Homo sapiens: one gene and its partners. The protein of the gene in region 3 interacts with the protein of the main gene of each other region in a pairwise test. Each region holds a gene or a part of one and is shown on either strand. Other genes may lie near its edges.

The links.
Region 1: the proteins of LHX4 (region 3) and MYOZ1 interact in binary tests that used the Homo sapiens proteins (3 or more experiments, as listed by UniProt).
Region 2: the proteins of LHX4 (region 3) and LONRF1 interact in binary tests that used the Homo sapiens proteins (3 or more experiments, as listed by UniProt).

What each region holds. Positions count from the first base shown.
Region 1 is NC_000010.11:73,638,475-73,646,071, forward strand, and holds the start of MYOZ1 (myozenin-1), read right to left. Parts: upstream 3,001-7,597; 5' UTR 2,937-3,000; intron 1,562-2,936; 5' UTR 1,544-1,561; coding exon 1,471-1,543; intron 1-1,470. UniProt on the Homo sapiens protein: Myozenins may serve as intracellular binding proteins involved in linking Z-disk proteins such as alpha-actinin, gamma-filamin, TCAP/telethonin, LDB3/ZASP and localizing calcineurin signaling to the sarcomere.
Region 2 is NC_000008.11:12,724,527-12,731,794, reverse strand, and holds part of LONRF1 (LON peptidase N-terminal domain and RING finger protein 1), read left to right. Parts: coding exon 1-59; intron 60-2,462; coding exon 2,463-2,621; intron 2,622-2,731; coding exon 2,732-2,894; intron 2,895-4,490; exon of another isoform or gene 4,491-4,563; intron 4,564-5,915; coding exon 5,916-6,068; intron 6,069-7,268.
Region 3 is NC_000001.11:180,268,093-180,275,432, forward strand, and holds part of LHX4 (LIM/homeobox protein Lhx4), read left to right. Parts: intron 1-1,560; exon of another isoform or gene 1,561-3,287; coding exon 3,288-3,442; exon of another isoform or gene 3,443-3,742; coding exon 3,743-3,914; exon of another isoform or gene 3,915-6,092; coding exon 6,093-6,487; 3' UTR 6,488-7,340. UniProt on the Homo sapiens protein: May play a critical role in the development of respiratory control mechanisms and in the normal growth and maturation of the lung. Binds preferentially to methylated DNA.

The sequences.
Region 1 (7,597 bases), on a different chromosome or scaffold from region 3:
GGCCTGCACCACCATCCCTGGCTGATTTTTATATTTTTTGGTAGGGATGGGGTTTCACCATGTTGGCCAGGCTGGTCGCAAACTCCTGAGCTCAACTGACCTACCAGCCACGGCCTCCCAAAATGCTGGGATGACAGGCGTGAGCCGTGGCGCCCAGCCTACATTTTATTTATTTATTTATTTATTTATTTATTTATTTATTTATTTATTGAGTCAGAGACTTGCTCTGTCTCCCAGGCTGAAGTGCAATGGCGCGATTGCAGCTCACTGCAACCTCCATCTCCTGGGTTCAAGTGATTCTCCTCCCTCAGTCTCCCAAGTAGCCGGGATTACAGGCACCCGGCACCATGCCCAGTTAATTTTTCTATTTTTGTAGAGACAGGGTTTCACCATGTTGGCCGGGCTGGTCTTGAACTTCTGACCTCAGATGATTGGCCCACCTCAGCCTCCCAAAGTGCTGGGATTACAGGCATGAGCCACCACGCCTGGACTTTTTTTTTTTTTTTTTTTTTAATGGAAATGAGGTCTCATTATGTTGTCCAGGCTGGTCTTGAACTCCTGGGCTCAAGTGGTCCTCTCACCTCAGCCTCCCAAAGTGCTGCGATTACAGGTATGAGACACAGCCCCAGCCCTATTTGTATTATTTATTTTGAGACAAAATAAATATATCTTAGGATGAACTCTGTCACCCAGGCTGGAGGGTAGCGTCGCAATCATGGCTCACGGCAGCCTCCACCTCCCGGGTTCAAGCGATCGTCCCACCTCAGCCTCTGGAGTAGCTGGGACTCTAGGCACATGCCACTACACCTGGCTAATTTTTGTACTTTTTGTAGAGACGAGGTTTTACCATGTGCCTAGGCCAGTCTCAAACCCCTGAGTTCAAGCGATCCACCAGCCTTGGCCTCCCAAAGTTCTGGGATTACAGGCGTGAGCCACTGCACCTGGCCCAGACTTCTGTCTTAACTACTTTCCCTTTTCTTTCCCTCAGTGAGCTCTGGCTCCAAAGAGTCTCTAGGTATTGAAGAGCTCTTCACATGCATGCACCCCTGCCCACCCCCAGGAAACATGCCTGTGCAGTTTTCCATTTTAAGTACTTACACAAGCTCCCTAGCTCTGGGGAAAGAAGTAAGGGAAATTAACCACTTATTGAGACCTGAGTCTGTGCCAGTCTCCATTATATTTTCTTCCTCAAATATACCTCACTGACTCATGGGTCCTGTGGTCCTGGACCTGTGCAGGTAACATGGCAGGGTATTGTCTCAGATTATGAAGTGAAAAGGGTAGAAGGTGTTGAATCTTTTCTCTCTTTCTCCTTACCCTTCTTAATCTTCCCTCTCCCACTCCCCATCACCCGCCTTCCCACCACTTAATTTCTCTTGTTTGTTCACCCTAAGATATATATTTCTGGGACTCTTGGTTTAGGGATGCTCTTAAGAAGTCCCACACTAGGGAGATGCAAACATGTCCTACCTCCAGTGAGTTCCATGATCAGCTTGCTGGATTTCCTCTTCTTATTAGGGGCCGGGGTTCCTGAGAGCGGCATTGTGGAGGTGGATTCAGCCTGGACAGGGTGGGAAGGAGGAGTTGGTGGATGGACAGGGACTGGGAAGAGTGAGTGTCTGTAGGAGAGCAGCACTTCTTAACCTGGGTTTAAGGGCTTGAGGGGACAAAAAAATTTTTTTTTCTTTTTTAGAGACAGGATCTCACTCTGTCGCCCAGGCTGGAGTGCAATGGCACAATCATGCCTCACTGCAGCCTCAACCTCCCTGGGCTCAGGTGATCCTCCAACTTCAGCCTCCCAAGTAGCTGGGACTATAGGTGCGCACCACCGTGCCTGGCTAATTTTTGTATTTTTTGTAGAAATGTGGTTTTGCCATGTTGCCCAGGCTGGTCTCAAACTCCTGGGCTCAAGCAGTCCTCCTGCCTCCCAAAGTGCTGAGATTACAGGGGTGAGCCACTTCACCTGACCCAGATTTTCAAAGAAGCATGTATTTCCCCAAAAGGTGAAAACTTGCGCTTTAGGGCTTCTCTTTTCTTGGGATACAGGACAGGAAGTATAGATGCACACCAGCCCCTGTTGTCTACCAACCTGTTGTGAGCTGTTTTTCATAGAGTCAGTGCAGGAATTAGGAACATAGCTAGGTGTGGGGAGTGTTTAAAAAACAATAACACAAGCAGGGCAATGCACCCAGGTTTCATTGGCTTGGCATGATTTGAAGTTTTTATTTGCACTGGGATATCAGACTGGGGCTGTGATTCCAGGCTCTGGTCTCTCCTCAGTCTTCCCCCAGTCCCCAGGAGGACAGAGAAATATTCTGCCAGGGTTGAGGAGATTCAGCCAAAAACACTCTCCATAGGAAGGAGAGGTTGTTGCTCCTTCATCAGGCCAGCTGGAACATGGCCTGGGAAGTCATGGCCCTGCTCCTGCAATCACTCCCGCCACAGACCCCAGAGTGGAGGCAGGTGTGGAACTGGGAAGGGTAGGGAGCATTCAAATCCCGACACGTCAATTCAGCAATATCATAGCAGTGGGGAATTGAGGTGGGGCAGAAACATAGTAATAGGATCTGGCAATGGAAAGGGACAAACTGGGATAAGATGGACTCCAATCCCTTCTTAAGAGAAGTTGGCACTCAGTGAAATGCTGTCCTCTTCTAAGTCCTGTCTCAAAAAATACATCTGCAACTCTACTGACTTAGTGGGGTCTCCCTTCCCATTCTTCCAGTGCCTCCCCCGACATCTCCATTCCCCCCAACCTCCTGGGCCCCTCTCCTTCCAACTCTCCTTCCCCTCTCCTTCCAACTGGACAGCTGGGAGCTGAGCATAGATGAGGAGAGGGGAGACTCCCCCAGGATCAAGAATCACAATTGTAGACACAGACACAGAAGTCAACACAGTGGGCTCCAGCCTTTCTAACGATAGAGCTGGAGACTTACCGGCTGCTCGGGCAGTGGTCAGCTCTCCCTGGGGTCCAGCAGCTTTGGAGGACTGAGCTGCTGTGACCGGAGAACACGAGCTGGGCAGGCGTGGGGGCAGCACTGGCAGTGGGGGAGGGAAGTTGGTTATTAATAGAGATGATGAGCGCAAGCAGCTCAAATGGCACAGGGGGTACTGAGACCCTGGAACCAAGATCCCTCCCTCCTTGCCCGGAGGCTCAGGAAGGAGGGAAAAGGCCTTTGGGATTCTCCCACTGAACTGTCTGAGCCAGGGATCAGTCTGCCCAGGGACTCCCCTTCACATTGCACCTAGAGCCTGAGATCCAAAGAAGCACTTAGGGAGAAACTGAAGACTGAGAGGGAGACAGGAAGTAGACAGCAAGTATTGGATAGGAATTCAGTCAGAGAGAGAGAGTCTGGGGAACATGCCCTGAGGGCCACACAGAGCCAATCCAGGGCAGAGTGGAGAGACCTGTGGGTGTATTTGGAGCAGGGAGGGCTTAAAGTGCTATATTTGGGGACAAAAAGGGAAGTCTTCACAGTGGAACTGCTCTTTTAAAGTTCCTGGATAGGTTGGTCTTTTCTCGGTAAGGGCTAGATCTTGGCAGGTTAAGGGACCAAATTAACTAAACCCAGTACCTCCTACAAAGGAATGATGTGGGGAAGACTTGACAATTATTCTGTCTGCCTCACTCCCTATTCTTTCCTCTTGAGCTCTGGCAGTTTTAATAAAAGACAAACACTTGGATCTGCATTTTTTTTTTTTTTTTTTTGAGATGGAGTTTCGCTCTTTTTGCCCAGGCTGGAGTGCAGTGGTGCGATCTCGGCTCACTGCAACCTCCACCTCCTGGGTTCAAGCAATTCTCCTGCCTCAGCCTACTGAGTAGCTGGGATTACAGGTGTCCACCACCATGCCCGGCTAATTGTTGTATTTTTAGTAGAGACGGGGTTTCACCACGTTGGCCAGGCTGGTCTCAAACTCCTGACCTCAGGTGATCCACCCACATTGGCCTCGCAAAATGTTGGAATTACAGGCGTGAGCCACCGCCAGGATCTGGTCTCTAAGGAGTTATTCTCTAGCCACCACGCCCAGCCAGGATCTGCCTTTTAACCTCCATTTGCTGTTGAGATGCTCAGTTCAACCTGCTGTGCGGGATAGACATCGATGTCTCCCTGAGAAGCACATATAGGCTCTCTGAGGTTTCTTTTCTTCTTCTTTTTTTTTTTTTTTTTTGAGACGGAGTCTCGCTCTGTTGCCCAGGCTGGAGTGCAGTGGCGCAATCTCGGCTCACTGCAAGCTCCACCTCCCAGGTTCACGCCATTCTCCTGCCTCAGCCTCCCGAGTAGCTGGGACTACAGGCGCCCACCAACACGCCCGGCTAAATTTTTTTTTGTATTTTTAGTAGAGATGGGGTTTCACCGTGTTAGCCAGGATAGTCTCGATCTCCTGACCTCGTGATCCATCCATCTCAGCCTCCCGAAGTGCTGGGATTACAGGCTCTCTGAGGTTTCTACTTGAGATTTCCTGCAAAGGGAGCACATACCACATAGGATCTGGACTGTGCCATTTGTACTGTTCCAGCGGAGTCTCTGGGCAGGGCCACAGGCTTGAAAGCCCCTTTGGGGAAAGCCTATCATTTCCCCAGGCCCTTCTTCAGTAGCTGCATGATCTTCCTCCACCTTCTGCTTAGATTCTGGAACCAGTTGCTGCAGCACTTCTGCTGCAGCCACCACAACCCTGTTGCTGCTACCTGAGGAAGTGGCTTTATTTATTTATTTATTTATTTGAGACAGGGTCTCACTCTGTTGCCTGTGCTGAAGTGCAGTGGCACAATTTTGGCTCACTGCAACCTCAGCCTCCCCAGGCTCAGGTAATCCTTCGACCTCAGCCTCCCAGGTAGCTAGGGCTGCTGGTACATGCCACCACGCCCAGCTAATTTTCATATGTTTTGTAGAGACAGGGTTTCACTATGTTTCCCAGGCTGGTCTCAAACACCTGGGCTCAAGCAATCCTCCTGTCTTAGCCTCCCAAAGTGCTAGGATTATAGGCGTGAGCCACTGTGCCTAGCTGGCTTTTTAAAAAATTATTTCTTTCTTTATTTTAGAGATGGGGGTCTCACTATGTTGCCCAGGCTGGACTTGAACACCTGGGCACAAGTGATCCTCCTACCTCAGCCTCTGAGTAGCTGGGACTACAGGCACGCACCAGGAAGTGGCTTTTGTAACTTCCTTTGTCCCCTTCTGAGCTCTTTACTCTTCCTGACCATGTCCTTTTTCCATCCTGTGGAGACCCTAAAAGGTATCCCCTCACAGTTGGCTTCTGCCCAGGCTAGTTATGCCTCCAGACCCCTCATCTTTTGTCCTCCTCCATCCCCTCCCAACCCAAGGAAGCAATTAGAAGATAAAATAGGCCGGGCGTGGTGGCTCATGCCTGTAATCACAGCACTTTGGGAGGCCGAGGTGGGTGGATCACTTGAGGTCAGGAGTTCAAGACCAGCCTGGCCAACATGGTGAAACCCAGTCTCTACTAAAAATACAAAAACTAGTCAGGCATGGCGGTGCGTGCCTGTAATCCCAGCTACTTGGGAGGCTGAGGCAGGAGAATCACTTGAACCCAGGAGGCAGAGGTTGCAGTGAGCTGAGATCGCACCACTGCACTCCAGCCTGAGCCACAGAGGGAGACTCCATCTCAAAAAAAAAGAAGAACTATAAATAGCTAAAGGTGACTTCATCATCACTACCACCCTCACCCTCAAAAACAAAAACAAACTGAAAGTTTGATCTCCTTCAACTGAGTACCCAAAACGACTGAGTGGGTGAAGACAGGCTATTTAACCTATGGTCTCTGAGATCTTTTTTTGGAATTCTAAGACAGTGCACTTGGAAGAGTCTGCGGCCTGGGTCTGATTATTGGCACAAATGTGCCCTCTGCTGGCAGAATCAGAGCAATGGCACTTTCCTTCTCTGAAGTCTAATTCTCACCTACCTCCAACGCCCTCCCTTCTTTAGTAGTCTCAATTCAGCTTTATTCTTCCCTCTCCCATCCCACCTTCCCCTCCAGCCCTCCAGCCATTGCTTTCTCTTCATTTACTTCCCAGAGACTGTTTAATATGGTTGCTTCCTCTAAGGAGCGAGGAAATGTTGATAGCAAAGGGCTCAGAGGGCCTTTCCAACTTCTCTGAGTTCTGTGAACTGAAGCCTTACCTAGAAAGTATGAGGCAAGGGAGGGAAAGGGGAGAACTTGGATGAAGACTGTGGGGAGAGGGAACCAAGAAGAGTGATGGAGGTGGCTAAATCAAAGCAGGACAGAATTTGTATAAAAGAGCAAAAGACCTGGGAACAAAGGGCAAAAGGATGAAAAATGGGAGGGCAGGAAAAGAGACAGATCAGAAATCAGATCAGGGGAATGGGTTAAAGAAGATTAAGGAGAGATCAGGATTTAGGAATAAAACTAGAAGATAACAGCAACAGAAGGTATGGGGCATAAATTTATTCTTGTGCACAAACCAAAGTATTGTGACTCACACCCAACAAGCAAAGGAAATTATCACTTTCCAGATTACACAGCAAACGTAGCTGGTGGTGGTCTTGGTGAGAAGGGAGTCCATACTAAGATTGGAGATCAGGACCTGAAGCTGAAAAGAAGCAATAGCTGGGGTTTTGAGGGATGGGGTGGGACTGAAAGGAGGTTTTGGCTCTGGGTATTTCCCTACTCTTTCCCAGGCAGTCATGGCAAGCTGCAGAAGACACACTGAAGAACAGACTCAAGGAAAATCACACAGACACCAACCGTTCTTTCAACACTCAGCACACACCCTCACACCTCCCTTCCACCATCATTCCCTTCCATTCTAACATTCTTCTCCCTCAAATTTTTTTCCAATCCCCCTCTCACACACGGTTGGTTTCTTGTTACTCAACTTTACCTTCTCCCAATATGGCATTGTCCCTCGCCACACTTCTGTCTGTGGCTCAATCACTTACACTCATTTCTGCCATGCTTCTGATTTTGGCCTCACTTGCCACACTCTGGCTCTCTTCTCCTTTCTCTCAAGCTCATGAGGCAATGAAGCCAATGATTTGTTCATTCTCGGAGGGAATTTTCTTTCTTTTTTTCATTTCCTGGGTACTGGGTTGCTCAGCACTGGCCTCTCAAGTTGCTAACTTTTTGAAATCCTGAGGTATAGAATTCTTTGTTCTATTCCTGGTCTAGCTGGTATAACTCAGCCCATGCAAACTGTCCTGGCCCTTCAGTCTTTTCATGCTCCATAACTTTCACAAGATGCTGTACACCTGCTACAGACATTGGTCTCTAAGGAGTTATTCTCTAGTGAATCTCTTTCTCCCACTCAACTCCATGTGGGGATATCTGACCCTTCTATCAGTACAACGATAAGACTCAGATTGGGTCTTTTGTTTGTTTGTTTGTTTTGAGACAGAGTCTCGCTCCGTCGCCCAGGCTGGAGTGCAGTGGCGCAATCTCAGCTCACTGCAAGCTCCGCCTTCCAGGTTCATGCCATTCTCCTGCCTCAGCCTCCCGAGTAGCTGGGACTACAGGCGCTCGCCACCACGCCCAGCTAATTTTTTGTATTTTTAGTGGAAATGGGGTTTCACCGTGTTAGCCAGGATGGTCTCGATCTCCTGACCTCGTGATCCGCCCG
Region 2 (7,268 bases), on a different chromosome or scaffold from region 3:
CCTGATGAACTGTCTGAGAGAAAAAAAATATATGATGAAGAAACTGCTGAACTCTCACAGTAAGTTTCTTCTCATAAAAAAAATTATGAACTACTACCCTTTAATAGTAAGGAAAAACCTCACCGCAAGCTGGATCCTGTCTTTAGTTCATCTCAGTCTAGTCAAGAAGTATTGGTCTGTTTCCGTGGTCCTCAACAGACAGAATCTTATAAAAGTTCACTTGGTAACATCCGGATGTTTTATAGGGAGTTATTGACTCAGCTCTGTGGGCTGAAGCAGTATTTTGGGCGGGGGAGGAATTTCCTACAGTGCCATCAGGCAGTGGAATGGGAAATAGAGAGGGGGCGCTGGTGACAGTGACATTGGTGGTGATGGCGGCTCTCATGTGTCGTGGTAGGGCAAGAGGAAGGTTGAGGGTCAGTAGCCTAGATTAGCAGGGGATTTTCTGTCACATGGAGGCCCGGAAGGGGGCTTTCCAAACTTTGAGATCTGAGATTGAAATTGGAAGAGGGGTGTTCAGGGCCAAATCCTCAATTAATGAAGATACTGACTGGGAGCACAACTGAGTTGGTGTCGGGAGGGTGAAAATCTCGGAGGCAACTTTGGGATTCGGTAAGGCAGGCCACTCTGCAAAGAACACAGCAGCTGATGGAGCTGGGTAGGCAGGGCCAGGCATTGCTTGTTGTCCCTTTTCTGTTTTTCTTTCCCGTTTTTCTCCCTTTCTTTTCCCTAAATGTCTTTCCCTCTTGTGCAGTCACTTGGGTCTCTTTAAATTTTATTAACGGGTTTTTAATTTCTTTATTTCTTTTACTCTCTTTTAATTGAACACACTAAAAAACAAAATTATAATTTGTATATGCTGTTTTATTTAACAACTTTTTGTTTCCATTGATTTTCAAAATATAAATTGAACATTTTGTATGTCACTTTCTAAGAAAAGCTGTGCTTGTAGACTCCTTTATCAACATGTGCCCATCAGATGTCTTCAGTGAGCCAGGTGCCTTCCACAGAAGAAAGATTTCCACTCTTTATAGAAATAGATATTGATTTGTCTTCTCACAGAATTGATATTTTATTGTGTGGTTTATAAAATGATATGACAATTATGAACCTTTCTGATCAGTGCTGAAGCATCTAGATTTAAGAAAACTGCATTTCTGCTTTTGAAAATTTAAACATGGTGACACAACCAGCCAGCCCACGGAAGAGTGGTAGACTCAAAGGACAGAGGAGGGAGACACACAGAGAGCTGCGCATTGGAGAGAAGAGAAGCGACAGGGTGTCCAGCTGCTTACTAATGGGGCTGTTTCTTAAAACACATATTTTAAACATGTTTCACCTTATGTTTATATAAGTAATTGATGGTCATTTTGAAAAAAACTCAAAAATACAAATGAGCTTTTAAAAAAAGCCATAATCTGCAACTCAAAGGGAATCAACTATTGGCATTTTGGCATACATATTTCCAAACTTGAATGTAGTATGTATAAATAGGCTTTAAACAAAGATGGGATCATGTTATTCATGATCAGTATCTAAAACCTGCTCCTCTCATTAATATAAGCATTTCTTCTAATTCAGTTCATACACATCATCTTTTAATGGAAACATAGTATTCCGTTTTATGGATGTACCATAATTGATCTTACTAGTCTCCTCTTTATGATTCTACAATTTGGTTACTATCCACATTGCTACAGTGAACATTCATATAGCACTTGCCTGCTTATGTCTGAAAATAAGCTGGTTGGTTCCAAGAACATGAACATTTCCTGCCAACAACGTAAGGTTTCTGCTGTCTGTAGCCATGTTCTTTAGCGTGCCTGTGCTGTTTCAGAGTGCCCCCATGCTGCCATTTTTCCCATACCTCAGACAGAACTGGGCATTGCCTTTATCCTTCTCTTTCTTTCTACCAATCTGGCAATGAAAAATGTTATATCATTTTAATTACTTGGAAAAAATGTTATCTCATCAAAATATGTTTTCTTATCCTTGCGTTTGAAAATAATGGCTGAGAATTTTTAAGTATTTGCTCTTTGTTGTGGGAGTTCACTTTTTCTTGTTATCTAAGAGTAACTATGAGTGTTTGGGATAAAAGGTATTTATTGTCATGTTATAAATATTTAAAACAGATTTTAATATAAAATATTACTTATAATAAATTCTCTTGATTCATAAACATACTTAGCTCTGTAAGATAATCTGGTGTCTTAAAATTCAGTTTACTCTTATAAATAAGAGGATCACAGCAGATTTTCAGTATTAATATTTCATCAGTGTGAGCTTAGTGAACGGGGTGCTGATTCTTGTTCTTGCCAAGAATAAAAACCACCTTATTTAGAACTAATTCTTTTTTTGCTTTACATTAGTTCATTACTGTTATAAACCTCACTCATTTTTTGTATGTGTTCGGTAATATTTTTCTTGTATGAATTCTAATAATTAAACTGTTTTTCCCTTAGCTTGACCAAGAATGTTCCAATATTTGTTTGCACTATGGCCTACCCCACTGTGCCTTGCCCTCTCCATGTATTTGAGCCAAGATACAGATTGATGATTCGAAGAAGTATACAGACTGGAACCAAACAGTTTGGCATGTGTGTCAGTGATACACAAAATAGGTATGCTTTTTGTGAACCTAAATATTTGTATTTATGTTAGACCTCTCAATATGGATGAGAACTTGCATGTTTATGTTTCAACTTTGTTACTAATCAAGGTTTTCTTTTAGTTTTGCAGATTATGGTTGTATGTTACAAATTAGAAACGTGCATTTCTTACCGGACGGAAGGTCTGTGGTTGATACAGTTGGAGGAAAGCGGTTTAGGGTTTTAAAAAGAGGAATGAAAGATGGATATTGCACTGCCGACATTGAATATCTGGAAGATGTTAAGGTATTTTAAAATGTGCTTTGCCAGCATACTTTCGTATATCCTGTTCCAGGGATTGGTACAGGCATGCAGGCTATTTTCTAGGTGCATGAACCAGTTCTTATCAGACAGCCTTACCACTGTGATGAGAATGTGCTCCAAGTTACCTTTTTCGTATCTTGCTCTGAAACTGTTGCACATTCTAAGAGAACTTGGAAGACTAGAACATAGATTCTCTTTATTTCTGCAGGCTTAACAACCAGCCCAGTGCCTAGAATGTATGTGTATATGTACACATGTGCATGTGTGTATACACGTGATAGGTACTTAACAATAGTGGTTGAATAAGTTGAACTTCCAACCCATCTAAGTTTTGAAAGGTTTACATTTCTGCCCTGTTTTATTGAATGTATTAGTAGTTGAAGCCGATGGAATTAGTAGATTGAAATTTGATGTAAATGTAAACACATCAAATCTTATAAGAATTGTTTTATATATTAAGATTGTTCTTGTGCCTAAGATAACCTTAATGATAAAATAGAGTTGAATGCTGTGTGAAGACCCTGGGGCAGACATAGAAAGCACTGCCAGTGTACATGTTGGTGATATCTTAACAGGGTAGGGTTTTTGTGATGTCTTTCTAGAATAGGGTTAATGTGGCCCTTTTGATGTTTGCAATACCCAGTTTACCTACTGCAGTTAGTTTAGGAACCGGAAAAGTGACTTATGATGCTACAAATACCAAATTGAAGGCAATTTCTTTTGGAAAGGCATTATAAAAACATAGATCTTATCCCTTCTCTTATTCATTGATCTGTTTAGGCCCTTCATTTCGTCAGCATTTATTGGATATTGGCATTAGGTATTTTCACAAACATTAACTCATAGAATTTTCACAACTCTATGAAATAGTAGATGAGGAAAGTACAATTCAGAGGTGTTAATTAATTTGCCTGAGAGCCTATAGATAATGTAACAAAAATGATTAAAGCAAACTGTCTGACTCAGACTTTGAGCTTTATCACTATGCCATTTGGCTCTCTGTTGATAAACCTGATTAGTCTGACGTTGGCAGTCCTATCTTATTATAAAAATGCTATGGGGGTACTTTGTCTTGTGCAGTTGGCCGAAAGTATTGTGTGAGTTGAAATTTTGAGTTGATTGATAGAATCTGTGCCTTAGGCATACTTGGTTAATGGAATCACTTGCTAAAGGTTCTTCTTTGTAAAGTTAATAACCATATTTCAGTTTTGTGTAAATTTATGTCTTCACTTATTGGATTTGATGACAAAATCACTTGAGTATATGGCTAAATTACATGACTATATGTATTAATACTTACAAACATGTAGGCAATAGAATCACATTCTAAAAGTATTACAGATATGATATTTATAAACGAGTCCTCTTTGGTCCTCGGAATGTCTAGTAATCTTTTCTCATCATGTCTTCATCTATATAATGATTTTCTTGTCCATTCTGGAAAACCTTCTCAAATTTGTTTTATATGGCAAATTTTCCTCTTCTTATAATAATTCTGTTTTCTGTGACTTCTAATGAAATTTTAAGTTCTGTTAAAATTATCACAGTAAAGTTCCTTGACTTTAAAAGCTTGCTTTTAAAATGGAGCTGGCCAAAAAGCAGGCAGAGACTTTAAAAGCGTCTCTGCCTGCTTTTTGGCCAGCTCCGTTTTTCATCACTGACGCTTATAATTGTTATCATTCCTTGTTTACCAGAGCCTGTCATTTGTTTTCTTGAATTTTGTGAGGGTGCAGAGCAGATGCTTTAAAAAAAAAAAAAAAAAAGATTTAACAAGGCATAAGTTTGTTTCTTGCTCCTATCAATGTATGTTAGCAGGGGCCTGAATCATGTATAGTCATTTCAGGACCAAAATTCTTCAATTGTGTGGCTCCTCTACCTTTTTTAAAAGTTTATTTTTATTGTGGTAAAATATACATAGAATTTACCATTTTAACCATCTTTGAGTGCACACAGTGGCATTAAGTACATTCACATTGTTATGCAAAAAACAGATGCTCTTTAAACTTTAGTTTTCATTTCAAATCTTTCAAAAGTAAAAAGTTTGCTTTTTTGTCTCTGGTGTGCTGTAGTCTTATTTTTATATTTCGAAATGTTTTCAGAGTCCCTTTGTTGTTTTTAAATGAGTCATCCTTGAAGTATGAAAGGCTGAGTCAGGCCTGGTATTTTTTCAGATGAGTTTGTGCATATGAGACAGAGCACGACCTGGCAAGTAGCAAGTGGGATGTAAGTGTGCATTAAAGAAATCAGTATAAGATGGATGAGTTAAACTTAGATCTTCCCACCTGTGTTCTCTGAGACTACTCTTCTATCTCAGGCTGGAAGCCTGATGCAATTAATTTTACATTTGCAGTTTGGTGACCCAGTAGTCTAAAGAATACACTGAGGGGTTCCAGAGGTAGCCATAGCCTTGGGCCTTGCCAGCAGAAGCTCATCATTGTGTAATTGACTCTCTGACATACTGGCTTTATATGCTAACTTATTTGTTGTAGCTTTTTGTTTGTTTTTGTGTTTTGACCCAGTTCCCTAGTAAAAGATGTAACTGTGCCTGGACTCCTCCTGTTACTACTTTCTGTCATGTCATCTACACCCTAACTACTTATCTTTTCTTTTTTTGTAGCAACTATCATCCACTTTTTTGTTCCACTGCTTTCAAAAACCATTGATCCATAAAGACAAATGGAATTCCAAATTAGACCTCTGAACCAGAACTCACTCTCAATCTTACTCTTCCCACTTGAGGGCTGTTGTAGGGTTCTGCAATATTGCACTGCTAAGTCAGCAAGGTTAGGCATAGGTCAGGCCTTGTTGTCTTTCTTTAGTCTGGTCAGCCCTATATGAGACAGAAATGTGTATTAAAGCATAGGAATAATACTCTCTGGGACGTCAGCACTGAAACAGGTATTGCCCTGTTCTTCTGATCCCTTTTTCCATTTGTGTCGGTTGGCATATGGCATATGGACGGGGGATTAGACACAGAAGTCTTACTGACTATTGTATTTCTAGGTTGAGAATGAAGATGAGATTAAGAATCTCAGAGAGCTTCATGATTTGGTTTACTCTCAAGCCTGCAGCTGGTTTCAGAATTTAAGAGACAGATTTCGAAGCCAAATTCTTCAGCATTTCGGATCAATGCCCGAGAGGGAGGAAAACCTTCAGGTATGGTGGCTTTTCTGTTCTTCCAAAAGTCACTTTTTTATAAACCCAAATTTGCACACTTCTACATTTGTTTTCTCATTGTCCTTTCTGCACTACTTTTTCTTTGACTGTCCCCTCCCCCGCACCAGCCCCACCTCATCTTTGCAATCATGAGTTCTCTAGAGCAGTGGTCTCCACTACATTCCGTACAGATAGAGGCTGGAAATACGTGTCAGCTGAGATGCCTGTAGGAGAGAGTGCCAGAAAGGGAGCAAGTCCTTAAGAGGATTTTTAGGAGTGGGTAAGGAATTAAAAACGGGATGTTACTATCTAGAAACTGTGACTGTGGGACAACTAACCATGCCTTTGAGCCCATCGCCTGTTGCTGTTATTCTTTGACAGCAGAGAGACTTACCATTTTCTATACATTTGAAACATCTTTTCTCACCTTTCTTTGTATCTCCCAACATTTGACCCAACCACTTCAATTCATTTTTGTCTCTTCATGTTTAATACCTCGCTTCTCATGAAACTATTATTCTTTTAGTCTTGCAGGTACTTAGGGTTTACACTTAAGCTTAGTCTAATGAATGTGTATCTGGCACTTTCTGTGCAAGCAAAACTGCAGGAGGCATAAAAGAAGGGTCTGGCTCCTGGAAAATCTGATCATAGACTTACTAAAGCACTACGTTTTAGGCATCGTAGCATTTTGAATTGAACTAAATGTTTTTGATCAGAAGGTGATAGATTTTACAAAGGAATGGCTGTCAGTAAATATGTGAAGATGGAGAGATAATAGATCTCATTGTAATGCACACTGCCTCATTCCCGTTTTCAAGGGTTGGTCTACATTTGTCTGAATCCCAATTGAATCCTTCACCTGAACTTGAAACACCAACATTAGGCCATCTCCAAATTTAGTATTCATTCTGTTTAGCATATTATCAGTTGCCATCTATTTGTTTTAACTGATTACTTGAATCTGATTAAACATCACAGAAATGGGCTTTGATAAGAACAATATTGAATAAGAAATTTTAAATAACAAAACAGCTTATAGAAAAATTCAGCATAACTTTTCCATCACCTTCACCACCCTTGCCTTTTATTATCCTGTCCTGTATCACTGCTTTCTGTTAGCAGTGTTGTGTGAGTTAGGATTTGGGCAGGAAAGCAAAAGCAACCACCCGTCATTTTCCCAGAATGAAGGGTTTGACGTAG
Region 3 (7,340 bases):
CTGGTTTCTTAAAACTCACTCCATGCTATTGCCTTGAAGTCAATTGTGATGTCATGGGAGATTAGGGCAACTTGTCAGGGATGAACCATCACAGCAGATGGACTCAGAGATACCAAGACACCTTTGGAAGTCTAGTGCCGTTCATCAGAGATACTAAGATGGCACGACCTCCCCGGCCTGCAGCTGGTTCTCATCAGAGGCCTCATTTGGACTCTGAGCACTCTCAGCTCAGCATCTCCTGATGTTGTGGGTGGTTCAAGAGACAAGAGAAACAGATGTAGATTGGTCAGAATCTGGCTGGGGAGGTGGGAATGACATTGTGGTGCTCACAGTTTTATCGAGGAATATTTGCACCACAGCAGACCTCTGCAGGATGATGGAAGATGCCGGACTTGCTGTCAGAAGCTGGCTGGGCATCCCCCCACACAGGGAGATCTCCTGGCAAGTTGTAGAACTGGCTGACCCTCGGCTTCTCAGCTGTCTATGGAGGATCATAGCATCTGCCACGTAGGGCTGTTTTCCTGAGGTTTAAATAGGATGAGGCTTGTGAAATGGGATGTGAAATAAGAGACTGACGTGGAGGAGAAGTGCAAACAGGGAGGTGAGGTGTGCTTGAGGTTTTAAAGCAGCGGAATGTTACACAGTATTTCTGGCCTGTTCCCCGGGTCCTTTCCTGACCCCACCCTGGCTGTGAGCAAGGCAGGGCTCCTCTGTCCTGGGCAATCGGTGATCCTTGGAGCAGCGGGGAGTTCTGTCCACTGCAGAATGCCTGGCTGTCTTTTCAGGTTGTTTTAATTCCTCCTTGCTACTCTCAGCCCTCCTGCAGGCTTACAGTTCCCTCCCATTAGCTAAACAAAGGATCTCAGAGCAGTTACTTGCACCTTAGTGTGAATGATTTTGTTCACTTGTTCCGTCTCCCTGGATATTTGCATTTTCAATATAATGAGGTTGCGTTTTATGCCAGGGACAAGTTCTAGGAGACCCTGCATCATTCAAAACTAACATATTTTAAGACTAATTTTCCTGTAGGAATTAATGTAGAGTGTGTGGGGGGGGGGGTGGTATATTCTGAGAGCACATAAATCCATAACCAGTGAAGTGTATCTTTGCCTTAATGCTACTTTTTATTTTCTCAGCATTATCTTGAATACCTTGCAGAACGCTCTCTCCTAAATTAACAGCCCAGGGTATCATGGGCTCCCTTGGCCTTCCTCATAGCGTTTTGTCACATTTAACTTCCGTACCAAAGTTATTGATTTTTGGGTACATTTTTCAGCACGAGCACTGCCACTGCTACTTAATGAATACTTGGATGACATTGTTATGGGATATAAAAAAGATTTTAAATTATAATAACAGTGAATGTTAAAATAACAGCATATTAGTCCCCATCATTGCAAGAAGAAAATCCTGTGTGTGTAGCAGTGCCGAACCAGCGGGCCACCAACCAGGATGACGGGTCTATCCCAGTGGCGCTACCATCTGGCTGTGGTGAAAAGAATTTATAATTCCGTAGGCCAAGCTATTTTGAAATTAAGTGATTCTCGAGAAATTAAAACATTTTTGGTGATTGCATTATTTCACATTTTTTAATATAAAGATTGTACACAAGTGCACTATTTCCCATTTGCATAATTCAAAGTTGCATCAGACACTCCCGTGTAGACTATAAATATGCACAGAAGGGACAGACTCCTCAGAATGAAAAGGAAGGCATTTTGGAGGTTCCCCTTTGTCTTTTGGAATGACTCTCTAAGTAGTGTAGTCTCTGTGGCAGGGGCTCCGGAATCCCTACCCTTCGGGTTCAGGGCTTCAGGGAGGGAGTTGGGCCACAGTAGTTCCGGGATGACAGTGGCCACGTGAGAGAAGAAAACAGCCCGAGGAGAAGGGAAGGCACGGGTGTGTCCCCCCTCACTGTGTACACACATGTCCTGGCTGCACAGCTGCTTCATTCCTCTAGTGCCTCCCAAGATCAGGGCAGGCCGTGTTGCCCTCTGGACTTCCAAGGGGGAAGTGAGTTACTGGCCCAAGTCACTCACTCATCAAGAACACTGAAGCCAGGTCTGCTGACTCCAGGGAGAGCCTTGTAGATTGTGAGGACCGAATGCATATAAAGTCCTTAGTCAACACCAGCACATGGTAGGTGCTAACACATGTTGGCTACTATTGTTTCTAAGAGAGGGTTTTCTTGAATGGAAAGAAAGGAGAAAAGACAGAGAGGAAGTCAGGAATGTCACAGAGACACCTTCTGGGGCACACAGGTGAGCAAGCACAGAGAGCAGAGCTGCCCAGGCCAGCTGCTGACTTTATTCCGTGTGTCCTCCAGGGGCACTGTGGAGAAAAGGGCAGTATGCCTAAGTGCTGGGAGAGGAAACAAACCTTTACATTCACCTGTGCTTCCGAACACACGCACGCGCCTCTCTCTGTACCTGACTTTGAATGGAACAAACCAGACTTTAACTAACAGGAACTTGAGCTTGTTCACTCAAAATCTGTCTAGGACTTTGTGTTGATCAGTCAGTGTGTTGCCCAGAACATTCCTTAGACTAGTTTTCTCAAAAAATTTTGACTACAATCCACAGTAAAACTCATTTTACATTTCATCTCAGTACACATATTTATACAATAAAAACTAAAGTTTAATGAAATGATCTTGCCATTCCATCCCATTCTCTTCATCTGATTTCCTGTTTTAGTTTTGATCCACTAAGGTGACTTTACAGCCCACGAGTGGGTTCTGACCTATAGTTTAGAAACCTGCTTAGACACTGTTGGGTGTGCAAGCTCACCCCTGGCTGTGAGCCCAGCGACGCCAGGGCAAAGGTGACATGGCTGTGGGGAAATGGGAGACTCCTGATGAGACAGAGGGGAGGGCATCTGGGGCGACTTTGAACATGACTTCAACCTGGCTGTTCACCTTCACAGCTCTGGCAAGAACTCATGAGGATGTGTGAGCAGAGTGTTTGTCATGACAGGGACGTGTGGAATTGGGTACATTCAATCTGATGAGACTTCTGTGCAGCTGGGCTGGCAGGGGAGGGTTGAGGCAGGGAGCTGAGCAGAGAAAGGACTGCTGTCCTCACTTTTCAGTGGCTTGGGAAGGCCCGTGGTGCAGGAGTCAGTGCCATGAGAGTGGGGACCTCTCCACTCTGATGTCCCCTGTGCCTCGCGCTGTCCTGCCTACAGCAGGCAGGCTTAGGTGCAGAAAGGATGGAAGGGAGGGTGTGGGAGGAGGCGCAGCTGCTGCAGATAGGCCGAAGCCAGTAAGCAGTGGTTTTTCCTTGCAGATGACTCAGAGGCTGGAGCTAAGCGGCCCCGGACCACCATCACAGCCAAGCAGCTGGAGACATTAAAGAATGCATACAAGAACTCCCCCAAGCCTGCCCGGCACGTGAGGGAGCAGCTGTCCTCAGAGACAGGCCTGGACATGAGGGTCGTACAGGTGAGATGCCAGCACTCCTGTGCCCTCCGGGGATCCCAGGCCCGGGACAGGGGTGGAAGGTATCCTGAGTGACATCAGCTCACGGGTGGTTGGGCTCAGGGCTTGACCCCAGGGCTTTTGCCAGAACTGAAGACAGAGTTCTGAGGCCCACCTGGGGAGAGGGGGTGGGGCGCATCGCACTCCCAGACCTGTGCTCCATTCAGGCTTCAGTCTGCTTCCAGCCGCCCGCCTAGGGGGTCCTGGGGGCTTTGGGTTTGTGGTGGACGCCCCCTGAGTATGTCCCTTGTGCTTGTGTGGCAGGTTTGGTTTCAGAACAGAAGGGCCAAAGAGAAACGCCTGAAGAAGGATGCAGGGCGGCACCGCTGGGGGCAGTTCTATAAGAGCGTCAAGAGGAGCCGGGGCAGCAGCAAGCAGGAGAAGGAGAGCTCTGCAGAGGACTGTGGGGTTAGTGACAGTGAGCTGAGCTTCCGAGGTGAGCAGGGCTGGAGGGGCCAGGCCGAGGCCTTAGGAAAGTCCCCTGGGAATCTGTAATCCCTGGCACTCAGGAGGGATCTTTCTTGAGGCCTTGGCAACTCCCTCCTGAACACAGGCTTTTCCTTAAGACTTGCAGTGAAGGGTGGGGGAAATGGTAGTGGCCCTTTACCATGGGACAGGAGTAGGAAACAAGATTGCTGAGGTCTGGAAGCTGGGATGGGCCAGGCCCCGTCCTGTGGCCCCAAGGTCTCCCCTCCCCTCCTGCTGACTGGGGCCTCCCTCATCAGCCCACACAGCTATGAACAGATGACTGGGTTCCAGCCTTGTGCCCCTAGCCCCTCTCCCATCTTTGTCCCCTTTGCTGGGACACTGGCCTACTCCCATAGTCCCCTAGAGCCACCCCTTCCTCCAGTCCTGGTGGTGGGGAGGTCATGCTCCACAGGTTTTTTCCTGGGAAATCAGTACTGTGAGTGCATGTGAGATGGGGAACTGGCTTCACTTCCGAAATCCCTTTCCCCACCACTCACTTCATTCTGTCCCCTGCACACAAGCTTTGCAGCATGCACTATATTCAAATTCATGCATCAGCAAAATTGTAAATTACTGCATGTTATGAATCCTCAGGTTGTTTGCAAAGAATCATAACTGTTCTCAGGTACTGAGTTCTCAAATGTGGAAGGTCTTCTGCGGAGGGGGAAAGGGAAGAGTACTCAACTGGCGATCAGAGACCTGGTTTCCAGTGCAGCTCTGTCAAATCGATTCACTTCTCTTGAGCCCCAGTATTCCCAAGAGGAATACCATATCTTTGCCCATCTCACTGCGTTGTGGGGATCAATGAACACAACCAACTGTGGATGTGCTTGGGGAAAGCCTGGCACATTTGTATACCTGGAAGGCATGATCGTTCCCACAGGGAGCGTGTGGCTCCCGCAGAGGGCCCTGGTCATTTGGGATGACAGGTATAGGGAAAAGGCTAACTCATGGCCATTTGACAATGGAGTGGAGCCTTCATCTTCCTGCTCCCTTTAAAGAGCATGAGCTCCCCCCACCATGTTTTTTCATAAGGGGAATGGGGGGCAGGCCTCAGAAGGGATGGGGTGTTGAAGTCTAGTCTGGGGAGGCCTTATTTAGGGATTGGTGCAGAGGCCCAGGTGGAAATAGAAAAGGAAGTTTGTGGGACAGAGGATGGAACAAGTTGCCTGCCAGGACAACGATGCCCTGGGAGGACTCTAGTTCAGCCCAGAGGTCAGCTGAGCCCTAGAGGGCAGCCTCCTCTGAGAACACAGGGCCCGTGAGGCCTTGGGGACAGCTCATGGGACTAATACTCACCTTTTAGGCTTCTTGGCAGGATTGGGAAAGTCAATCTCATCTGGGCTGTTGAAGTCAACACCTAGAACATACTGGATTGTTAAGCTCATTTCTGTTGGGTGCAGGTGGGTCCCTGGGCTGACCTATCATTGGTTTCTCTGGGAATAATTTCTCAAAGACTAAAACTGCTCACCTCTGTTGGAGAGAGAAATTCTTTCAAGTGGCAAAGATTCCATTAGATCCCCTTAATGAAATTCTTTAAGAAAAAAGAAGGTTCATTTGCCTTAATCAAGTCAATTCTTTGTCCCCAGTGAAGAGCTTATTGAATACAGACAGAAACCAAGTCCTTTGATATTGAACCTCTCTTCCAGATAGACCAGAAGGATTTTGTACAGATGTCTAAGAGTGGTCCTCAGCTTCCCTGACCATATGGGCCTGCTTGCTTCCCAATCAACTAAACCAAGCCCTTTCTCAGCTTGAAAGCTTTCAGGGTAAATGTTGTCAGCATGTAGTTTCCATTTGTGATGTGGAGACATCTGACCCACCCAGCCTTAGGCATTCATCCTCCTCAGTGTAGCCAGAGTATTAGTACACGAGCCACAAGGGACCAACGAGCTCACCAAACATTTGTCCATCCTTCTGGGACCTGGGAATTTAGTCTTTGCAGGTGTTTCTTGTTTTTCTCCTTGGCCTGGGTTGGCCTCTGGATATCAGGCTGCCATATTGGTGTGTCTGACCCATGCTTGGCTGCAAGGCAGCTGCCATCCTTGGGCATCTTTCCTGGTCATGTGTGTTCCTAGGTTGTGAAGAGCAGGGGACCATCAGAGTCCTGGCAGCTGACAATAAATCTCCGTTCTTTTGTCCACAGAGGATCAAATTCTCTCAGAACTTGGCCACACCAATAGGATTTATGGCAACGTGGGGGACGTTACAGGCGGACAGTTAATGAATGGGAGCTTCTCCATGGACGGGACAGGACAATCCTATCAGGACTTGAGGGATGGGAGCCCCTATGGAATCCCCCAGTCTCCATCCTCCATATCGTCCCTGCCATCCCACGCTCCTTTGCTCAATGGGCTGGATTACACGGTGGACAGTAATTTGGGCATCATTGCGCATGCAGGGCAGGGAGTAAGCCAGACGCTGAGAGCCATGGCTGGGGGACCCACCTCTGACATCTCCACAGGAAGCAGTGTAGGCTATCCCGACTTTCCAACTAGCCCAGGCTCTTGGCTCGATGAAATGGATCATCCTCCTTTTTAAACTTCTCTCCTCCCCACCCTACCTGCCCCCCTGGCTTGAGAGAATATCTTCAAGGATCAAAAGAGACTTGCCTTTTAAGGATCGAAAGTACGCCAATGTGAATTTCCATTATTTTCAATGGAAGTCCTCCGCTGATTCCTAGAAGGCTGTGAGACCACACTAGGGCATTGTTTCCCTGGGGAAGCAGTGGGAGAGCAGACTCATCTCAGAACACAGCACAGGGGGTAATGGCCTAGAGCTCTAGGGACACTGGCTTGTTGGGTCTCTCCCCTGCTGTTCTGCTTAGGGGCTTGGCTGCTCAGTGCTTTGGTAGCACAAGGTGACTGTGATAGGCCCCCTTGGCCTTTGGGAACTTTGCTCCAACTGGTGTGTCTCACACAATGCCTCCCAAAACACTGCTCTCACCAGAACTGAGACTCCTAAGGTAGAGGCCTCACAGCCCTTGAGTAAAATAAAAGTGATTTCTGGACCATCCTTATTGAACCCTATATTTCAAAATGAAAAGATCAGTTATTAAAGGTCAGTGAACACTTTGATGGCCAGTTTGATATTAAAAACATGCCCCCTCCTTTTTTATTTTTGCTGTGAAGATATGAATTCTTTCCTACAAACCAGAGAATATGAACCTGTTTTGGTTTTTAAGTGTCCCATCTATATCATTGACTCTGATGGCAAGAGGTGGTTTTCATTGCAGGTGACTGAGGCTGAGCTGAGTAGCCCTGGACCACCGCTGCAGATTGCCTGAGTCGTCCCCTTGGTGCACAGTGTGCCTTCTTCAATTGCTTGTATCATTTATTCCACAAGACAGGCTGTGGGCTGTAAAATGAGCAAAACTAAAATGTGGGGAGAACAA